Regions from separate parts of the Homo sapiens genome. Here region 1 is linked to region 2. The links come from fine-mapping of genetic effects on gene expression. Tissue or cell type: whole blood. Region 2 holds a variant in brackets; the other region holds the start of a gene. All regions are shown on one strand. Distances are between the middles of the regions.

Evidence for each region. PIP is the estimated chance that this variant, and not a neighbour inherited with it, causes the effect.
Region 1: CTNNAL1 starts here. The variant in region 2 is fine-mapped to the expression of CTNNAL1 in whole blood (TOPMed, PIP above 0.99).

Annotation. Positions count from the first base shown.
Region 1 is chr9:109,008,585-109,016,690 of GRCh38, reverse strand. CTNNAL1 (catenin alpha like 1) reads left to right here and starts at 3,192. Exons shown (of 19, transcript NM_003798.4): 1 at 3,192-3,389. The coding sequence starts at 3,249. TMEM245 (transmembrane protein 245) reads left to right here. Exons shown (of 18, transcript NM_032012.4): 18 at 1-1,556. RefSeq lists a silencer at 2,950-3,839 and an enhancer at 3,501-4,004.
Region 2 is chr9:109,147,887-109,155,886 of GRCh38, reverse strand. It overlaps FRRS1L (ferric chelate reductase 1 like), which reads left to right. Exons shown (of 5, transcript NM_014334.4): 2 at 6,167-6,251. Among named protein-coding and RNA genes, the nearest start is that of FRRS1L, 15 kb to the left of the region's middle. The variant C/T (reference allele first, on the strand shown) is at 3,496.

The DNA.
Region 1 (8,106 bases), 140 kb after region 2:
TGGGAACCTGCAAAAAAAAAAAAAAAAAAAAACACACATGCTGTCTGCAGCCACTGTTTGGTTATTTTTGATAGTTTAAGAGAATTATAAATCAAGTTGTTCTGTCTACTAGAGTCAGAAATTCTGTGCTAGAATGGGACTTCTAAAATTAGGTGGTCCTGTCACTTTCTAGAGAAAGACCCAAATTCATAGGTTTAAGTGGCTTGTCTGACATACACATACAGCCAGTTAGTAACAGAATTCAGAATAGAATAGAGTTCTTTTTTTTCTGTCAGTCCGTTGTTCTACTTCTCTTTCCTTTTCTTCATGGTTGAGCAGCTTTTGGCAAAATGTGTTCCATATAGCAGTAGTTCCAAGAGATGTTAATAGATGTAAGAAAAAAAGTGTGTGTGTGTTGGGGGTGGGGGATTGCATGGTCAATTAAAATGAAGGAATGCTGAGTTTGTTTCCTTACTGTAGGACTTCTAAGAGTTTTGAACATGCTATTACACATTGTGAATTTATAAAAGGGGACAAACACTGTTTGACCTTAGACTGCACTCCCCTTCTTTATTCCTCAGAGCATCTCAAAGGACTACAGGGTCCTTTGAGAAACATGGCCCTTGATCAAGTTTACAACTCTTTGAGAAGACATCCCTAATGGAAATACTGAATGGCAGATCTATTACTGTGGTACCATGTAGTGTGTAATAAATCTTGAAGTCCAGAAAGCAAGTATATTTGCTGTTTAGAGCTATACTTAAGGTATAGAGATTCTTTTCCACCTGTGGTGTGTAAAATCAGTATTGTGTTTAATTTTGCAGGTTTTTCAAGGATCAACTAATGTGCAAATACAGTGGTGATATATTGATATTACATTTTAATAATGCTTTTGTATGGCACTTTATAGTTTTCAGACACCTTTTGTAACAGCCCTGTGAGACAGACAATATTATCCTTATTGTACAGATGGGGGGGCTCTGGAGGCTCTGAAAAGTTTTTGGTGATATTCCCCTAAGTTTATACCACAAAATGATGGAGCCAGAATTTAGTTGCAGAACTTCTGACTCCAAGTCCAGAGTTCTTTACTAGACATCTGGTTTCTTACTAGCTTTTTGCTAGCTTTTTATTTTACAGTGAAAAGTATGGAAGCAAATCCTGATAATTTTGGCTTATTATCAAATATCATTTATTTTTTATTGCAGAGACCCAGCAGATGTAACTCTCATTGTAGCCATCCCAAAGAAAACCCTTCTTTGCCCTTTGCAGTGCCACTTATTTAGGTAACTGAAGTGTATTTCCAGTACAATTTGATTTTGAACTAAGATTTGATATAGAGTTGTAATTGCTTACATAACTCTTTGAAAATGTATCATCCCTGGGTTCTCAGGTGAAGGAGGCAATTCAAAAGTAAAAAAGAATATTCGAATACAATAAATACCCTCTGTTCTCACACAAATGCTGTTTCTTAGCTAACTTGCTTTGACAACCTACTGATGTAACTTCTTTATTAATGTGAAATATTTATATTTTGAAATAAAATTACTAGTGTTGAATGAATCATGTGGTAAACTTAATCTCCTGTGTGTTGAAAAACTTGATCTTTTGTGAAGCCAAAGTTTCATGAATCCATCCGTCTCTTAGGCCTTCTGTTATGCCATTTCCTCCGGCACCATTGTGTACACTGAATTCTTAGGAGATACTGTCAACTTCGTAAGGGAAGGTGTGTCCAGGAAGTGGACACTGGGCGCCTTAAAGAGGTCAAGGGCCCTCAGTGCACAGGGGAAGGTGGCCTTGTGATAGGTAAGGAAGTGGTGAGATGGTTGGCTGAGAAGAATTGGAAGAAAAAGTTGGATTGAGGACCTGTCCTTTTTGAATGAAGAAAAAGAAGCTGAAGCTTGGCTATCTTCAATACCAAAGACAGCTGTGCAGCACTGGTAGATTGATGAAGCTGAAGCTACAGGTTGAAGCACTGTGAAGCGCCTTTCAACGGTGCTTGGGAAAGAGCTTTCTTATGCCTCAGGTTGATGTACCCAGCTCATCAATCTGGTGTTATGGAAGAAGAAATGATCCAGGCCAAGGTGTCCGGGTGGACTGGCCAGCCTCAGATTCTTTTTTACTCTGACAGGTTCTCACTGGCAGATATGGTAGTTGACAAAACATTTTTTCATGCTTCTCAGTCTGTTGCTTAAGTCTGGAATTCCTTCACGGCGTGCATACTGCTGACAACCTCCTTTTGGCCTTGCTCCTGGAGACCTTAGAATAGGAGTCTTCAGCTCCCCGCCCCCATCGTGGGGCTCTGTGCGAGCTCAGAGTTGTGCTTACAGAACTGATTCTTACCCTTCCCCTCAAGTGAGTTGTCAGAAATACACACTTGGTGTTTTCATGCAATGAACAGTTATGAAGAAACTGCTCTGTGCCTGGCACTAGGAAAAAACTTCGAAAAATAGTTTTAAGAAGTAGTGTTGAACAGTAGATGAGGCTTTTTCATGTTTCTTTTAAATTTCTTTTGAATAAGTCTAAACAGTAGTGTGAAAGATATACTGACTTCCTGCCGAATACCCAGATACTCCATTAATGATTGCATTATCAAATGTTTCCCCTTCAATCCAGCTCAAAGTGTTTGTGAGAAATACATGGTGAAAGAATGAGCAGGGTGGAGTGGAAATTGGACCTTCCGGAGAAGCCCCAGGAAGACATTACCACTGGAATTCCCGTCCCAGGGGAAAGGCCCCTCCCAACAGACTTGATTCTGGTTTTGGTCTACCAGTTTCAACCCCAGCACAGCTTCCAGAAGTCTTTGCGGGAATTCAGAGCTGATTTAGGACGAGTCACCTATCGAGAGGACGGGAAGCTTTGCTGGGGACGCTTGTCTGTCCAAGTAAGAGGAGGCCATGTGGCTGTGTGACAGATGTGTTTTGTTTCTCCTCGCCACCCTGGCGAGAAGGTGCCTGGAACCCATGGAAGGGGTCTGAGAAGAGATAAGGGCGGGGCCATGTGGGGGCGGGACCCGGCTTAGGGGGTGGGGTTGCAGGGAGCCCACACCAGGCTGGACTGCGCGGGCGGGGCAGAGGCCGGGGGTGGGCGGGGACATACGGTGACGGGCGTCGGGGACGCAGGGTTGGCGGCGGAGCCCTGGGGGGGCGGGCCCCTGGGGGCGGGGTCTCGGTTGGCGCGAGTGTCCTGTCGCCGCCGCCTCGGGCGGGTGGGCTGACTGGCGGCAGGCTCGCCGCGGCGCGGAGTCCCGGCTGCGGGATAGACCGAGGGCCATGGCCGCCTCTCCCGGACCCGCCGGCGTTGGCGGCGCCGGAGCAGTCTACGGCTCCGGCTCTTCGGGCTTCGCCCTCGACTCGGGACTGGAGATCAAAACTCGCTCGGTGGAGCAGACGCTACTCCCGCTGGTTTCTCAGGTAAAGTGGCGCCTGGCGCGGCCCCTCTTCTCCTTCCCGCCGCGGCCCGCGATGGCGGCCGCCGCTCGCACGACCGGACGGGAGGCAGCCGCTGCCCCACTTTCCGCGCCGGCACTGCGGCGTTCTTGTCGGACCGCCTGTGTGGGGCTCCGGGACGGGCCTCGGCCCGGGCGGCGAGAGACTGGATAATCCAAACTCCGGCGGCAGGGTTGAGTGGACTCGGCAGCAGGGGAGGCTGCGGGGCGGGGGTGCCGGCCTGGGCCTTTGCCCCCAGTACCTGCCTCGGGTCTGCGGCTCCCGGGTGCCCCCGGCCGGGCGATGCCCCCTCCGCGGGGCGAGTGGTTGAGCCCAGCTCCCGAGGCAGAGAGGACCCCCGCGGGGCCCCTCGCTGGTACTTAGGGCCCTCCACGATAACCGACTTTGTCACCAGTTCGCAGCCTGGTCCCGAGCCCGGCTCCTCCGCCTGGGGTATTCCTCCCGGCCTCCCCGCCCAGCGTGCGCTCCCTGATCCTTTGTCCCTCCCCGCCGTAGGTCAGTTCGCTGGCCTCCCATTCATCCCGGCCACCCTACCCCTTCCCCTGAACCTGCTGCTGCTCACTTCTGCCCGCTTCTGTCCGGCCTCGTGGAAGAGTGACGTGGAGACTGTATGACAGTTAATCCAGATGCACACCGTTTTGCCAAGTCCCGTTTGGGATGTGTGCGTTACTGTATTTGCCAATCAGCTAACCGACGCCCTGAGTTTTAGGAAAGTTTTTGTTTCTCTGAGCTGGGTTATATGCAGCTTCAGGGCTAGAATTCCTCACTTAGGTCTGTGGTAAGATGCCAAGCACTGTGGGGAGTGAATTCTGTGCCTTCGGGAGCGCGTTGGCGATGTGTGACTCACATCTAGGTTGTAACCACTTCGTGACTCATACTAGGATTACCAAGATTTTAGAGGTAGAAGAAATCTTAAAGATTATCTGACTAAAAATTCTTTCTTTAGCATCCTTGACACCTGGCCACCAGTACCCTGCTTAAACATGTTCAGTGAAGGGGAGCCTGTAGCTGTTGCATAGAATTCTAAATGCTATTATCTCTTCTCCTGCCCAGCCCTGCGCATATTTGAAAACAGCAGTTACACATGTCCCTGGATTCCTGTTATGCTGGTTAAATAAACATCCCTATTTTCTTCACCTTCGCATGGCTAACGGAGCAGTGATGAATATATCTGACACTCTCCTTCCCTTTTCCTGTGTCTCATTGAGGCTCTGACCAGTGGGAAGGGGCACTGGGATCCCTCAGTAATGTCAGACCCTCCGCTCCTCGCCTATCTCCACTAGCACAACACAACCAAAACGAGAAACACTGGAGCAGTTTTAAGAGGCAGAGAGATAAGAGAGTGATGGAGTTCAAGTTGATAGTATTTTATCCATTTTTTAAATAACACCTATGTAATGCTTACTATGTGGTAGGCCAGGTTCTAAGCACTTTGTAAATATTAACTCATTAATTCTCATAACAATCATGTGAAGTTGGTATATATTCTCGTGGTATGGGAGAGGAAACTGAGGAATACTGAGGTTAAATAATTTGTTGTTAGGGCTTTCAATAAGTGCCAAACTGGGATTTGAATCCAGGTACCCTGGCTCCAGAAGGTTCTCTTTGCTACACTATGCTGTGTCCTCTCTAGAGATTAGAAGCAGTAATGAGATCTAGAGAAAAAGATGGTACATAGTGGAAAAACAAGCTAGAAAGTCATAATCTGGAGAAATGGCAACTTTTCACAGTATCCACTGCTAAAAATGTATCAGTCTTACAGCTCTGCATTGTGTAACTCTGGGGTAAAAGAAGCCAGAGAAGGGTAGGAGAGCAGAGGAAGAAAAGTATAAATCACTGCTGAGAGTTAGAGGTCAATGCCAAAGGGGAAGAATGCCTGCCTTTTTTTTTTTTTCTTTTTCCAGTTAAAGCCTTGTTCAGGGTCACAGCTGAGGTTTTGCATCCCACACATTGTGTATCTACAGCTACATCTCTACCACAACACCATAACTGATATTCCTCATAATTGACTGTCCTTAACAAGAAAAAGTTAAAATCAAGAAGTGTATTAAGCATGGCCAGAATACTCGGTTAACAAAGCAGGGAAGTACAATTTAGAATGATTTTAAAGTTTCAGTGTTAGGAGATTAAAACAGCAGTTCTCCAGAAAACTCATATGTCCACAAGTCTCATTTTCTGAGAATGCTGTATTATTACCCAACTCATGTTTCACCATCTCATCCACAAGGATATTTTAAGCATTTTAAGCAAGGATTTATTGTGTGCTTATTTGTTGCTGTTTTTTGAGGGGCTTATATTCTAGTTGGTAGATAGGTCATGTATAGAACAGCACATGCAAAGTGTCAAATGAACATCATCAATGGTACATACTCTAAAAGCTCAGAGAAGGCATGGATGAGTCAGCAGTGATGTCATGGAGGAGGCAGGGTTTTGAGGTAAACAAGTAGGACTGGCACTATACGGTTTAAAGTAGACAGTTTCTATTCTGGTATCATCTAGCTTCTTCTGACTCTCCAAGTGAAAAGTCCTGGGTTACTGGCCTTATTCTAAGAATGCAAGATTTTATCAATATTAGAAAAATGTGTATAGTTTTTTTTGCATTCACAGATTATAAAAGATGTATTTTCCTAACAATGATGCAGAAAAAGCATTCAACTAAATTCAGCTTCTAATAATGATAAGAAGCACTTAGGGAACTAGTGTTAGGAAAAAGTGTCCTTAACCTGATAGAGTATCTACAGAAAACTTTTACTTAACATCATAGCAACAGTCAAATTTAAAATAAACATTTCCTTTAAAGCCAGAAACCAGAGTGGGGTGCCTGCTATGCTTCTACTCAGCACTGCACTGGAAATTCTAGCCAGTGTAATATGACAAGGAGAAGAAATAAAAGGAATAAATATAGGAAAGGAAAAACCAAAAGTCTCAGTGTGATATAATAACCTATGCAGAAAACTCAAAACAGTCTACAAGTAAATTATAAAAATTAGGAGTGTTGGCAAGTTCACTGAGTGTAGGATACTAAAATCAATTGCATTTTTCTACATTGATAACAAACAAGGCACAGGCGCACTGGCTGGTGCCTGTAATCCCAGCTACTCTAGTCTCAGCTATTCAGGAGGCTAAAAAATGGGAGGATGGCTTGAGCCCAGCAGCTGAGGGCTGCAGTTAGCTGTGATCACGCCACTGTGCTCCAGCCTGGCCAACAAGGACCCTGTCTTTAAAAAATAATAAAAAAAAATAGAAAAAGTAATTATTAAAAAAATCCAGTTATATTAACAGTAACAGCAAAATATGAGCTTCCTAAGAATATGTTGCTTTTGCTATGTATATAAAGAGAAAGAGCTCTATCTCTATGTATACACAGCAAAAGTGGTCAAACTTCATGGAGAAAATTTAAAAATTTTATCAAAAGCCAACATGGATCTAAATAAATGGGAGAAAAGTACTGTGTTCAAGCCTAGGTTGACATATTATAGACATATCAGTTATCCCTATTGGTCAATTTAATGCAATTTCCATGAAAATTTCAGCAAGATTTTTCAGTAGAACTTGATAAAAGTAATTCTGAAGTTTATATGAAAGCACAAAGGGCCAAGATTAGGCAGAAGAGAAACAAGGTGGATGGACTTGCTCTGCCAGATTTCAAGACTCATTATAAAACTATAGTAATTAAGACAATGTGGGTATCAGAACAGGGTTGAAAAACATAGACCTGTGATACAGAATAGAAAACCCTAGAACAGATCCACACATATATGGAAACTCGGTAAATGACAATTGGCATTGCTGGTCAGTGGGGAAAGGAAGAACTTAAAAAAAATTAAGCTGGGACAATTGGATATCTAAATAGAAATTATGAAATTGGATCTCTGTCTCATACCAGTAAAAAGTCAACTTCAGATGGATTAAAGACAATATGAAAGTAAAAGCTCACAACACTTTTAGAAAAAAAAAAATAGGGCAGTATCTTCATTACCTTATGCTGGGAAAGGATTTGTTAGTATACCACAAGTATAAACCTTAAGAAAAAAATGGATAAATTCGACTTCTTTAAAATGAAGAACCTAGGCCAGGCGCAGTGGCTCACACCTGTAGTCCCAGCTCTTTGGGAGGCTGAGGTAGGTAGATCATTTGAGTCCAGGATTTTGAGACCAGCCTGGGCAACATGGTGAAACCCCGTCTCTACAAAAAATACAAAAAATTAGTCGGGTGTGATGGCATGCACCTGTGGTCCCAGGTACTCTAGAGGCTGAGGTGGGAGGATTGCTTGAGCTGGGGAGGTTAAGCCTGCTGTGAGCTGTGATCACAACACTTCACTCAGCCTGGGTGACAGAGTGACAGAATGAGACCCTGTCTCAAAAAAAAAAAAAAAAAAAAAAAAAAAAAGAACCTCTGTTCATCAAAAGGAAAACGTAAGTCATTAAGTGGGAGAATATGATTCCAACACAAATAACCAACAAATGATTTGTAGTACCTAGAATAAATAAAATACTCCAATGAATAAAAAATAAAAAGATTAGCCATTAAAAATTGGTCAAAAAATAATTTCACAGAAGAGGAAACAGCTAAAAGATATAGGAAAAGATATTCAACTTCATTAGAACTCAATGAACTACAAGCTAAAAAATCCACAGTGAGAATAAGTGTTGGTGAGGAACGTGGAGATGGTAGCAATATC
Region 2 (8,000 bases):
CAGGGTTGTGCATCTGTCACCACAATCAATTTTAGAACATTTGCATCATCCCCCAAAGAAATCCTATACCTTTAGCTACTACTCTGCAGTCCCTCATCTCCCTCCTCCCCACCCCAGCTCGAGACAACCACGAATCTTTCTGATTCAATATTTGTGTATCCTGGACTTTTTTTTTTTTTTTTTGAGATGGAGTCTTGCTCTGTCGCCCAGGCTGGAGTGCAGTGGTGCAATTTTAGCTCACTGCAACCTCCACCTCCCAGGTTCAAGCAATTCTCCTGTCTCAGCCTCTTGAGTAGTTAGGACTACAGGTGTGCTTTTTTTATTTTTGTATTTTTAGTAGAAACAGGGTTTCACCATGTTGGCCAGGCTGGTCTCGAACTCCTGACCTCAAGTGATCTGCCTGCCTCAGCCTCCTAAAGTGCTGGGATTACAGGCATGAGCCACTGTGCCCAGCCTTATCCTAGACATTTCATGTAAATGAGATTATATAATCAAGGTACGTCCATGTTGTAACATGTATCAGTACTTCATTTTTTATGACTGAATAATATTCAGTCTTACATATGTGGATAGATTTCCAAAGGGAAATAATAAACAGAATGAGATGTACTGCACAGTGTCATTTATGCAAATTAAAACATACACAAGTGATATATTAAGAGCACACCTATGTAAAAATAAACATAGAGGTGAATGGTAAGTTTCAGTGGGCCCTCACTGGTCAGCTCTGTTTGGGCATTTCCAGGCTTTGTGCCTGGCCATGAACAGGCTAATGCAGTGGAGCTGTGGGCAGCATGGCAAGGGGTGCTGTTGGCAGAGTGAGAAATTGTGCCTGGAACCTGAACCTTAGATCCAGGATCTGCTGAAGGCAGTTTGGTAATTATCGTGTAAGGTAATCATGCAAGAGTTTCAGGATGATAATCTTGGGAATATGAAAAACTTTTTGCAACCTGGCAGGACTTTACCCTGGACAGGCAGAATTCCATGCTACATAGAATGGACTGAGATGAGAACCTTACCCCACCACCAAATTGTCTGTTATCCATTATCGCTAATGTGTCCTTTCAGTTTATCATAGTAAAATATTGCTTTTCTAAGACGTATGTGTCAGAGTGTTCATTTTTTGTTAAAACTTCCATCCTTGGGAGAAGGTTATGCATGAAATATGCTGGACCTCGTGTCTAAGGTGGGGAAGAAAATGGAGTTAGTGATGGATTGGTGGAAAAATATAAGATTGGCTTTGTATAGACTGATAATGAGTGTTCCATAAATCAAGAAATACCAATTTAATTCTGTGTACCTAGGGTACTTAGAATTGTACAATTAAAATAATTTCCCATTAGAATTGTCTAATGCATGTAAAACATAGATCCTATTGAATGTCTTTATTTTCTAGCCTTCGGATAAGTACTAATAAGCTACAGTTTTGGCAAACACATTGTATCAGTATTGAAAGGTTAATCCATTTAGTCTGCATCAATCAAGTTCCAGTAAGAAAGATGGAAATCATACTAGCTGTTTAAACAAAAGACCAGCCCAGGGAATTGTCTAAGCAAGAAGTTGCGGGACTGGAGAAGCAAAAAGGGAGTACCAAGATAGCATGCAGAAAATAACTTCAGGAAAGTTACCATCCTTGGGGCTGGAGTTGCAAAGAGAAGGGCTTGAGATTATAAAAAGGTCCCAGACCAGGACCTCGCAGAGCTGTGACCCATCCTTTGAGAATGAGGCTGTGCTCAGCTGCTGCTGATGCCTCAGAGCAGCATGGGATGAGGTTGGTTCTGGGAGCCTAGCACCGAACTGGGAACTCAGGCCAACTGCCAGGATGAAGTAGAGTTGCTGAGAACTTGCTTATTGGAACAGCAATCACACAGGAAGGAACAGTCCTCTTTCCCTCCTCCTGCCTTCCTCTAATGCTTGCTATTGGCAGAGTCTAAGCACCTGGCAAAGGAGAAATGGTTTGCAGAGTACTCAGCCTATAGAAGGCTGGGTTGTAGCTGAGAGACAAGAGCTTAAATATTGGCACATGGTCCAAACTTATTTTATATCAAATAGAGATCATTTAATTTCAGGAAAAAAATCTAATTCTGCTCTGCTTATATTCCAGTATCAACTCCCGACTGGTGTACTGCAATTCAGTTCCTACACTAATGACCCAGAGTTAGTGCAGATCCCACAAGTGAAAGGGCACAGTTCACAATAAGATTGTCCACACCTCAGACCAACTGGCTATAAATGTGGGGTCTTCCCACAAGATAGAAGAAGCTTCCCACTTCAGCTTCTATTATTTGCTAGAATGTTTCACAGAACTCAGGGAAAAAAAAGTGCTATTTTTACTATGACAGTTTTATTATAAAGGATACAACTCAGGAACAGTCAATGAAAAGACACATAGGGTGAGGTCTGAGAGGCTCCCAAAGGCAGAGTTTCCATGCCTTCTCCTCGTGGGATTATCACATTGCCCTCCCAGCACATCGATGTGTTCAACCAGGAAGCTGCACTGGGCCGCAGTGTCCAGAGTTTTTATTGGGGTCTCACTATGTTGGAATGATTGATTTAATCATTTGGCCACATGGTTAAACTCAATCTCCAGCCCCACAACCCTCCCTATAGGTAGGTCTAGCACAAAGCCCCAACCTTCTAATTACATGGTTTTTCCAGTGACCAGCCTCTATTCTTAGTCATCCCGTTGCTCAGCATAAACTCAGGTGTAATCCAAGGGGCTCATGAAGAACAAAAACACTCCCATTACTTGGGAAATTCCAAGGTTTTAGAGTTTGTCTCCCAGAAACCAGGGACAAAGGCCAAATTCTTTATTTTTCAACAGTTTGCAATATAAGAGGAAAATGTTATTAAAGGCATGTCCAAGTGCATTTGACAGAACACAAGTTCCTATTACAAGTTTTAGAAGCATATATGATAATAGAAAATTAGTGCTAGAAAAGTCCTGAGAAGCCATTTGCCAACATGAATAAACTAGTTCAGAACATTTATGAGCTAGCTTTGTTCCAAAATTTGCTTTCATTTGGAGTTTAGAAACCTGTTGTTCTTTTTTTTTTTTTTTTTTTTTTTTTTTTTTTTTTTTTGAGATGGAGTCTCTCTCTGTCACCCAGGCTGGAGTGCAGTGGTGCGATCTTGGCTCACTGCACGCTCCACCTCCCGGGTTCATGCCATTCTCCTGCCTCAGCCTCCTGAGTAGCTGGGACTACAGGTGCCCACCACCACGCCCAGCTAATTTTTTGTATTTTTTAGTAGAGACGGGTTTCACTGTGTTAGCCAGGATGGTCTCGATCTCCTGACCTCATGATCTGCCCACCTTGGCCTCCCAAAGTGCTGGGATTACAGGTGTGAGCCACCATGCCCAGCTGAAACTTGTTGTTCTTAAAGAGACAATCGTACCCAATGGTTATTACTTCTCAGGCCAGTTTACAAAATTTAATAGGGCCAGGCGCAGTGGCTCATGCCTGTAATCCCAGCACTTTGGGAGGCTGAGGCAGG[C/T]GGATCACGAGGTCAGCAGTTCGAGACCAGCCTGACCAACATGGTGAAACCCCGTCTCTACAAAAAATACAAAAATTAGCCGGGCGTGGTCGTGGGTGCCTGTAATCCCAGCTACTCAGGAGGCTGAGGCAGGAGAATTGCTTGAACCCAAGAGGCAGAGGTTACAGTGAGCTGAGATTATGCCACTTCACTCCAGCCTGGGCAACAGAGCAAGGCTCTGTCTCAAAAAAAAAATAGTGATAATAATCCAGTAGTAATAGTAACTGGTATTTATTGAGCTGGAAATCTGCTGTATGCTAACGTATTATTCTAGATGCCAGGAAGTAGTGAGGATGATATGTTTGAAAATGGAAGAAGATGGGGAACCTGAGTCAGATGCAACATTAAAAGAGATTGTCTTTGTCAGTGAACTCTAGAATTTCAAAAACATGTAAGTGAACAATCATTGAATTCCTGGATAAATATTCTGAGACAAATGGCCTCAGGACTGTAGTGAGAAGTAACAGGAAGAAGATATATGAAGCTGCTTAACATACAGTAGTTTGTAGTGGCTCAATAACTATTCAGAAAAAAACAAAACTCGTTCAAGTCAGGACTCAGTCTATAGCAGTGAACCCCAGCCTTTTTGATACCAAGGACTGGTTTAGTGGAAGACGATTTTTCCATGGACTGGGTCAAGGGGAAGGTTTTTGGGTGATTCAAGTACATTACATTTATTGTGCACTTTATTTCTATTATTATGACATTGTAATATATAATGAAATAATTATACAACTCACCATAATGTAGAATCAGTGGGAGCCCTGAGCTTGTTTTCCTGCAACTAGAAGGTCTCATTTGGGGGTGATGGGAGACAGTGGCAGATCATCAGGCATTAGATTCTCATAAGGAGCGTACAACCTACATCCTTCACATATGCAGTTCACAATAGGGACTGCACTCCTATGAGAATCTAATGCCACTGCTGATCTAAGAGGAGGTGGAGCTCAGGCAGTTATGCAAGCCATGGGGAGTGGCTATAAATACAGGTGAAGCTTCGCTTGCTTGCCTGCCACTCACCTCCTGCTGTGCGGCTTAGTTCCTAACAGGCCATGGACTGGTACTGGTTAGTGGCCCAGGGATTGGGGATCCCTGGTCTCTAGTACTGAAGCAGATATAGGACTTAGCATAAAATAAGCATAAAACTAGAAAAAGTAATGCATTTGATCCAACTACTTTGGTGGTAAAAAGTTAGGATTGTACTTTATGATGTGATCAAGGTCCAGGATAGTAAAAATGGACTATTCAGAGTGCACAGAAGTGTGCCAGAAAAGTGTGACCTGGTGGCTTTTTTAAAGTATAATAAATCTAATGGACAAAATTAGCAAAGCCTCACTTTAAAAAAAGTAGCATTACAAATCCCAAAGAAAAAACTTAAAAATAACAAGAAAAAAACTCATAAAATAGAATGATTTTTAAAAGTTTGTACTGATTTACATTTCCTAATGTCTGTGGGTGATTTTATTTATTCCTTTGACAATCATTTATTCAGTGTCCAGTGCCAAGCACTATGCTGGGCAGAGAATACAAGATAAGTCTCACATGATTCCTGTGTACGTGGAGTAAACAGCCTAGGAGAAAAGATTTCTCTCACAAAGTGGAGGCATAATGCAGCCTTACCCTTCAATGTATGGTTTGATGCATTATGGTGGTAAGTAATCTTATAAGAAAGATAGACAACTGTTAGAAATTATGTGTTTAAAGAATTTAGCGACAAGTTGGGTATGGTATGGTTTGATGCATTATGGTGTATGGTTTGATGCATTATGGTGGTAAGTAATCTTATAAGAAAGATAGACAACTGTTAGAAATTATGTGTTTAAAGAATTTAGCGACAAGTTGGGTGCGGTGGCTTATACCTGTAACCCTAGCACTTTGGGAGGCTGAGGACTGTGGATCACTTGAGGTCAGGAATTCGAGACCAGCCTAGGCAATATGGTGAAACCCTGTCTCTACTAAAAATACAAAAATTAGCCGGGTTTGATGGCCGGCGCCTGTAATCCCAGCTACTCGGGAGGCTGAGACAAGAGAATCCCTTGAACCTAGGAGACAGGTTGCAGTGAGCCAGGATGGCACCACTGCACTCCAACCTGGGCAACAGAGGGAGACTCTGTCTCAAAAACAACAAAAAACAAAAACAAAGAATTTAGTGACCTAAGAAAATGTTACCTACAGGTTAACGCAAAATGGAAGTTGAAAATGGAATGGAAAAATCCTGTTATCAAGTATATAAATGGAAAAATCCCACTATCAAGTATATAAATGTATCACTGTTAACTTTTTTCTCTTAGAACATGTATATTGTATTAAACGTGTGATTCTCAAACTCCCAGGGGACAGCGGTAAGCCCGTGGTTATATGAAATTGTGCCTCTCTCAGTGCCCCAGGTTCCTCTCCTGTAAAGTGAGAAAAGGACACACCTACTCTCAGTTCACATGCAAGATTAGGTCCAAAGGTGTGTGTCCTACACCCTCCCCCATGAAGGGGATGATTAGCCTTCATCAAAGCCATTTTCTGAGTCCCCAAACATTTCTCGATATGTGTGAGAAAAAACAGTCAACACATTTTTAAAAATTCTCATTGGAACAGTTGTTACTGGATTTTCTAACCCTTCTTTATTCTCACTGCCCAGGTTACCCCTTCCCTACTGCTCCTCCTGTGGATCCATTTGCCAAAATCAAAGTGGACGACTGTGGAAAAACTAAGGGATGCTTTAGGTTGGTGGAACTGCAGGTTGGATAACTTTAAGGCTAAGACTGATTTACTTCTCAGGGTAGTATTTAAATTGCATGCAGTTCCTTCTAATCAGGGGGCCTGAGCTCCTTGATCACCTCAGCAGGGTTATGAAGTTTCGTAACGGCCATCCCGCTTTTCAGTCTTAAAGGCCTTTTAACTTTAGTATGTCCTGGGCCCGGGACCATTCTTCCATGGTTCTTTTCTAGCTGTACCACCATTGCTCCAGGTGTCTCCTACTCACCAATTGCTGATATGCAGAAGACTCATGTGACACAGAACGTGTCTGTGCTTATTCAGCAGGGGCTGTGGGCAGGACAGGCAATGATAGACATGTTTAGTACCCAATTCCTTTTTTAGTAAATAGTCCTGACCTATGGATATCTGTATGATTCTAACTAGTCATTAAGCATTCATTGTTGCTAGCTTGTTATCTCAGGCATGGTGAGTCTCTACATGATTATTAGTAGTATCACGACATGACGGGCTGGGCTAGAAAACAGTCATGTGGACAATGGGCCTCCCATCTAGACAGCTCAGCTTCTTTGGGAAAGCCTCCTCCTTTGAACCCTTTACTTCCTAAAACAAATTGCCCCTGAATAATTTGATGGTCAGGGGCAAAGTTTTGATGGTCACTGTACTGAAGGTTCTGATTTTGCTGTTGTTCAGTACTTAAGGTCTAAGAAGGAAAAATTGAATACAGGGGCTTTGAGCTTTCTTTGGATTACAAGGCCACTTCTAAGGAATGAATAAAAATAGCCAAAAATGTTCTTATTGAGGAAGATGGTCAGCAATGTATAAACCTGGTGATTGGGGGATATTTTGAGAAGGGAGGGAATTTTAGTACTCTACTGGCTTCAAAGTGACTTGTTTTCTTGTCCATTTACTCCTTTTTTTAACTTCCCTTGCTCCTTTTCATCTTTTTCACCCCAGTGCCCTGTTGCCTTGATCCTATTATATCTCTTCCTGACTGCTCGGGTATTTCTGCCAGCATAGTAGTACATTTCTGTCCCCTCCTCAACACTTAGCACCCCTGTGCCCTGTTCCTTTAGATACCTTCCATCTGCGCGTATATTGTCCCACCCATTGCTTCAACTTTCTACCATTCTGCAAATGGTGTAATACAGTGTTCCTCAAACCAGGGCTTGCCAGTTCTGAAAGGATCCACAAGTGCTCTGTAAGAAAATTTAAATTTGTGTTTTCATTTCAGTGGTGCTCTCAAAAAAACATGAATGTCTGCATAATCTCACTATCTGGATAATCACCTTATATTGTTGTATGTTTTAGTGTCTGAATTTGTAATTATATTAGCAGCAAGTAGCCCAACAGAACAAAGGCAAATTTTATAAATAAGGCCAAGCACAGTGGCTTGACTGTAATCCCAGCACTTTGGGAGGCTGAGGTGGGTGGATCACCTGAGGTCAGGAGTTCAAGATCAGCCTGGCCAACAAGGTGAAATCCCGTCTCTACTAAAAATACAAAAATTAGCCAGGTGTGGTGACCCATGCCTGTAGTCCCAACTACTTGGGAGGCTGAGGCAGGAGAACTGCTTGAACCCAAGAGGTGGAGGTTGCAGTGAGCCAAGATCCCGCCATTGCACTCCAGCCTGGGCAACAGAGTGAGACTGTCTCAAAAAAAAAAAAAGAAAAAAAAATTGTAAATAAATATTGCATTCATTCATGGTTCATGAGTACCAGATGGGGGTATTCATTTGGTGTATCGCATAAATAAGG